Homo sapiens: one gene and its partner. The protein of the gene in region 1 purifies or fractionates together with the protein of each later gene. This does not show direct contact. Each region holds a gene or a part of one and is shown in the gene's direction. Other genes may lie near its edges.

What was found. Proteins that work in one complex are often made in the same cells at the same time.
Region 2: the proteins of WDR53 (region 1) and MOCOS purify together in Homo sapiens (affinity purification with mass spectrometry; one large-scale study listed by BioGRID and IntAct). This does not show direct contact.

What each region holds. Positions count from the first base shown.
Region 1 is NC_000003.12:196,553,677-196,556,115, reverse strand, and holds the end of WDR53 (WD repeat-containing protein 53), read left to right. Parts: intron 1-1,308; coding exon 1,309-1,905; 3' UTR 1,906-1,939; downstream 1,940-2,439.
Region 2 is NC_000018.10:36,193,997-36,197,496, forward strand, and holds part of MOCOS (molybdenum cofactor sulfurase), read left to right. Parts: exon of another isoform or gene 1-311; intron 312-1,260; coding exon 1,261-1,350; intron 1,351-3,500. UniProt on the Homo sapiens protein: Sulfurates the molybdenum cofactor. Sulfation of molybdenum is essential for xanthine dehydrogenase (XDH) and aldehyde oxidase (ADO) enzymes in which molybdenum cofactor is liganded by 1 oxygen and 1 sulfur atom in active form.

The sequences.
Region 1 (2,439 bases):
CATGGTCATGCCACTGCACTCTAGCCTGGGTGACAAAGTGAGACCCTATTTTTAAAAAAAAAACTATTTTCATATCAAGTTTCAGCACTCCTTCGTGTTATATTTTCTAATATTTATTTATTTTACTTTAGCTTATTTCAATTTGTTCGTACTTTAACTTCACCCAAACAGTGATTGTTAGTCACATAGTATAATGTTATAAATCCAATTCAAAGAGATTTTCATCTAAGAGAAGCAGAATGTAAGTGTTACTAGATGTCACTGCTTTTGAAAATAGGCCACTGAGAATAATCATAAGGGAAGTTACCTTGAATAGGAAACCAAATTCTTAATAGCATTAGCAATAGTAATCTTGCCAATTCAGATCTATGCTTTTCACTGTCTAAACAAGCTCATGCTTCTTCCAGTGTCTGTTAAAATTGTGAGTTATAATTCAGGGATGATGGTAAACTACATGATAAAGCTGTCTGTTTGCTTTGAAAGTATTAAGAGTATTTTTCTTTGCAAAATGGTTGATACAGGAAAAGAATGAATCACTAGATGATAATGTAAAACCCATTCACAAAGCTTATTTAAAAAAAACAAAAAGCACCAGGTCGGGAACAACGAAAAGCCAAATGAAATTAATACCAGGATGTCATATTAATCAACAGACATGTTTGGAATTTCTCCTCTTTCTCAGCCATTATGCTAGGCATTAGCAAAGACTAAGTAAGTCTCAAGAAACTGATAAGCTAGTAGAATATGTCAATTAATAGAATAGAAACTAGATACAGGAAGGAGAAGCGGGCTGAAATAGGAAAGCCTTCTTGGAGGCACCAGGACTGAGCTTAAGCCCCTTGGATGGGTAATTGGGTAATGTGAAAGGAAAGGAAGGCATTCCAGATGGAAAGCATTTCAATGATAGTCCAGATCGAGTTTATTTAGTTGATAGGCCTTTTGACCTATAACCAGCATAGACTAAAACTAGCAAATTTGATAATCTTTGGTTTTACTTGAAGAGATGAGAGCAGAAAAACCTTTAGAAACTGGCAGCTGCTTAACAATTACACTTTAATGGAGTTTATTAATCAAAAATTATTCAGGATCTTGTTTAATTCTACCTAACCGCACTCTAGTTTTAGTCCCGGGGTAGCATTCCACTGGCATGTTATGGCAGCATTTGATTATTTTTTAATACTGCTGAGAACGTGCACTACTGCTCATTCTCAGACTACTTTAACGATTTTATTAGAAGCTGAATAAGCATGATAGTTGAGCAAATTGGCTAGCATTTTGTATGACTGTGTAATTTCTTCTTATGTAAAGGTGATGCTGTGGAGTCTTCAAAAAGCCCGACCACTCTGGATTACAAATTTACAGGAGGATGAAACAGAAGAAATGGAAGGCCCACAGTCACCTGGTCAGCTCTTAAACCCTGCCCTAGCCCATTCTATCTCTGTGGCTTCGTGTGGTAATATTTTTAGTTGTGGTGCAGAAGATGGTAAGGTTCGAATCTTTCGGGTGATGGGAGTTAAGTGTGAACAGGAACTGGGATTTAAGGGCCACACTTCAGGGGTATCCCAGGTCTGCTTTCTCCCAGAATCCTATTTGCTGCTTACTGGAGGGAATGATGGGAAGATCACGTTGTGGGATGCAAACAGTGAAGTTGAGAAAAAACAGAAGAGTCCCACAAAACGTACCCACAGGAAGAAACCTAAAAGAGGAACTTGCACCAAGCAGGGTGGAAATACTAACGCTTCAGTAACAGATGAGGAAGAACATGGCAACATTTTACCAAAGCTAAATATTGAACATGGAGAAAAAGTGAACTGGCTCTTGGGTACAAAAATAAAGGGACACCAAAATATATTAGTAGCTGATCAAACTAGTTGTATATCTGTATACCCCTTAAATGAATTTTAAATCCAATAAAAACATTTGAAGAATTGTGGCAAAACTGTTTTTCAGATTAAAAAAAAAAGCTCCTGGTTCTTTATTTAAGCTGTTTGTTATATGTAAAATCATACTCTTCTGCTGTACAAATTTTAAGATATTTGAACAAAAGACAATTGGATATTTATATAGTAAGTGATATGTTAAAGTTTGGAGGAAGAGAATGAATATTCATTGTGTACCATGTACCAGCCATTTTACGTATATTTGATTTCTTGTTCCGAATCATTGAAGTGATTTCCCCCATTTTAGTGCCACAGGAATTAAGACTTAGAAATGTTAAGTAACTTAAAGATCCAGGAAAATTGCAGGCACAACGACTTGTCTGGAAAGGACCTTGTTAAGCTGCCTACCGTAGGGAAGCCCACATCCTGGTCCAAATTGGTCACCATATTAGTTATTTCTGTCCAGGCGCAGTGACTCACGCCTGTAATCCCAGCACTTTGGGAGGCCGATGCGGGCAGATCATCTGAGGTCAGGAGTTAGAAACCAGCCTGGCCAACA
Region 2 (3,500 bases), on another chromosome or scaffold:
GTACCTTGAAAACATTATGCTAAATTAAAGAAGTCAGACACTAAAGGCCACATATTGTATGGTTCCTTTTACATGAAATGTTCAGAACAGGCAAATCTAGAGAAGCAGAAAGTAGATTAGTGGTTATCAAGGGCTGGGGTTGGAGGCATTGGGGAGTGATTGGTAATGATATGGGATTTCTTTTGGGAATGAATGAAAATATTCTAAAATTGGTATTTATGTAATTTTATGAATATGTTAAAAACCACTGAATTGTATACTTTAAGAGAGTGAATTTTATGTTATATCTCAATAAAGCTGTGATAAAACAACCCATTCTACACAAAACAAAATATTTGATAAGTGAATGAATGGATCTCTTCACATTATATGTACTTGAAAGTGTATCTCAGAGTTTGTTTCATGTCAGTACTTATTATTAGTGTACAATGTTTATTTTAAAAGCGCATTGATGGATATTTAAGTTGTTTCCAATCTTTTGCTATTGCAGGCAATAGTTCGTCGAATAGCCTTATATTCAGGTCATTCCACAAAAGTGTGGGTATTTGTAAGATGAATTCCTGCAAGTGGAATTGCTAGGTCAAAGGGTGTGTACATTTTAAAGCATGAACTGATGTTGCCAAATTGCTGAGCATAAAGGTGTACCTGTGTACCCTCCTACCAGCCGTGTACCAGTGAGCTTGTTTCGCCACAGCTTCATTCACACAGTGAGGAATCCAACCACTGATCTCTGCCAATCTGATCAGTAATCCGCGGTATCTCATTTTCATCTAAATTTGCATTTCTCTCAGAGAGAGGTTGGATGGATCATTTGCATTCCTTGTATTCTTGGAAGCTCTGCAGCTGCATTAGTGTTGAGGGGTGCAGAGCAGTGTGGGAAAGTAGGATCAGGGCTCTCCCCTCAGGGACTCCTCCCAGAACCTCCAGAATAGGTTGTGAGTGACAATGTGAAACAGCTTTGCCATCATTCATCACGAATGTCTGCTGGGCGTCTTCTCTGTGTGGGATGCTGTTCCAGGTTCACAAAAGAGTGAAGAGAGCTGATTAATCAGGAGGGCTCTCTCAGTGCTTTAAAAGTCCTTCAGCATTAGAAGTGCAGTCCTTCCACTGCTCATGCCTACACTTGGATTAAGAGGCACATATCAAGAGGCACAAGTCAGTGGCCTGATGTTACGTCTGCATGCATTAGATGACATTGGTTGGGCTTACACAAACCAGATTCAGGTAAAATTTTAGTATTTATTTTGTGTTTTCTTTCAGGAACTGTCTATCTTGACCATGCAGGTGCCACCTTGTTCTCCCAGAGCCAGCTCGAAAGCTTCACTAGTGATCTCATGGAAAACACTTATGGTAAAGAAAAACACCTGAAACAGGTTTTAGTCAACTACATGCAGCTGATATACCTGTGCATGTTAAACGCTGGATTAATAGGCCAGGAATATTCTGACCACAAAAAGCTGAATAAGCCCCATGTAAGATAGGGGCCAGGCAAGCACCCTGGGTCATTCTGTACTGTAAACATGTGGCCGGGATGGAGGGAGCTGGCTCAGGGACAGACACACAGGTTACTACCAGAAGAAGAGGCCAGTGTTAGGAAGGGCACAGAGATTCAAAGGTGCTGTATTTGGTGGTGGTGAGTGACCCTGTATAGTGCAGAGAGTGGGGCAGCAGGAGGGATGTTAATTCAGTCATTCACTCTATAACTGTTCATTGAGCCACTATGATGTGTGGGGGACAGTGCTATAATGGGAACAAAATAAACATATCCCTTTCTTCTTGGACACTGTGATCTAGTCCTGGAAGACAAGACCTTAAGTGAACTCCAAATAGATGTGATTACCAACTGTGTGAAGGACTATGGACAAAAGGTGCCTGGTTCCAGGCCAGCCTGTATCTGCAGTGACAGTGGGGTTGGCTTGTGCATGTCTAGGGAAAGCTTCCTTTGGAGTGGAGTGGATGCTGGAGGATGAGCCAGAATTCACTCAGACAAGAGGGGGAGAAGTGCGAGCAGGCAGGGTAACAGCCTGAGCCAAGATCCCATAGTGGTTTCAGGAACCAGTCCAGGAACACGGAAGGGAGAAGAGTGGGAGAGGTCTGAATGGGGAGGGAGGGAGAAGAAGCCAGTGCAGGGCATTGTAGATGCTTGATCTTTGTTCTAGGAGCAATGGCATTGTCATCAGTGGCATTTATTTGCAGCACAACATGATCTCACATACTTTGGAAAGGGAACTTGAAATCATAGTGGCAGTAGCAATTGTAATATTTGTGATGAGAATAACGATAAGTAACATTTATCAGGTACTCGCTATGAGCTTTCTCTCTTCAGCCTCACAACAACCCAAGAGGCATAGGTTCTGGTATCACTCCTGTTTTATAGGTGAAGAAATGGGGCCCCAGAGAGGGCAAGTAACTAGCCTGAGGCTGCACAGGAAGGACTGGAGCTTGGAGGAGCTAGAAGCTGTGTTTGCAGGCAGTTTAGCTCCAGAGCCCAAGCCCTTAGCCTCCACCAGAGTGCCTCGATTCAGGATACTTCTGTTATGCCACATTAAGGGGTTTGGATTTTGGCTCTGGGCAGCCAGCAGATATTTAAATCTGGGGAACAGTCTTCTGGGAAGGTGCCAAGGAGGGATTTATCCTGATTTTAATCTGCAGTTTGCAAAGGTTCTTGTAATTCTCCTTCTTTAACCTTTGCAAGAGCCATAACCGTGGGAAAGCCTGAGAGATGGCAGAGTTGAGATTGCAGGTGGTGGTAATGATGCAGCGCTAAAGCCAAGCAGAGGAAAGGCAATGAGGATAATTACCAGGTCCCACAGGTTACTAGCAATGTGGAAACAGAACATATGGTAGCTGCAGTGGCCAGAAATCCAGTGCAATCTTTCAGTGTATTTTGGAGGAAAAAAAAAGTCTAAAACTAAAGGGCAAATTCTGCGTTAATGAGCACATGTAGCTCCTGAGAAATGCTGGTGCCTGGTCTTATAGGTCAGGCCCTACCAAAGCCTGTCTGGGGGTTAAGTTTGAGGGAGGTCATGATACTCTGGGACACATTTGGTGAGGACACCAGGAAGGGAGCAAAACTAGAAGTTAAGAGGAAGAGTGACATTGGGAGGAGGGCCTTCCTCCTTGAAAGTGGATGGCTAAGGGCAGCACAGTGGCCCCCTTCACATATTTGGAGGCCGGGATCAATTATTTCTGCAGGAAAGGCATCAGCAGTGGTGGTGGGATCTGCAGGGCAATACGTGGGGACTTAGATTAAGTGGCGTTCATGGCTCTGCTTCATGCTTGGAGAAAAGGGCATCCTCCTGAGGCTGTATACTGCATTCTCTGGAGTTAAACAGAGCCACAGCCACCTGTCTGGAACATGTAGAACAGACTCTTGCACTGGCCTGCTTCTGAGCTGACTTCCAGCTCTAAAATACTCTTCCCGATCACATTTGGTTTTACTAGTGAGGAGAGATTTTTTTTTTTAACTATATCATAAAATTTACCAGCTGGGTACAGTG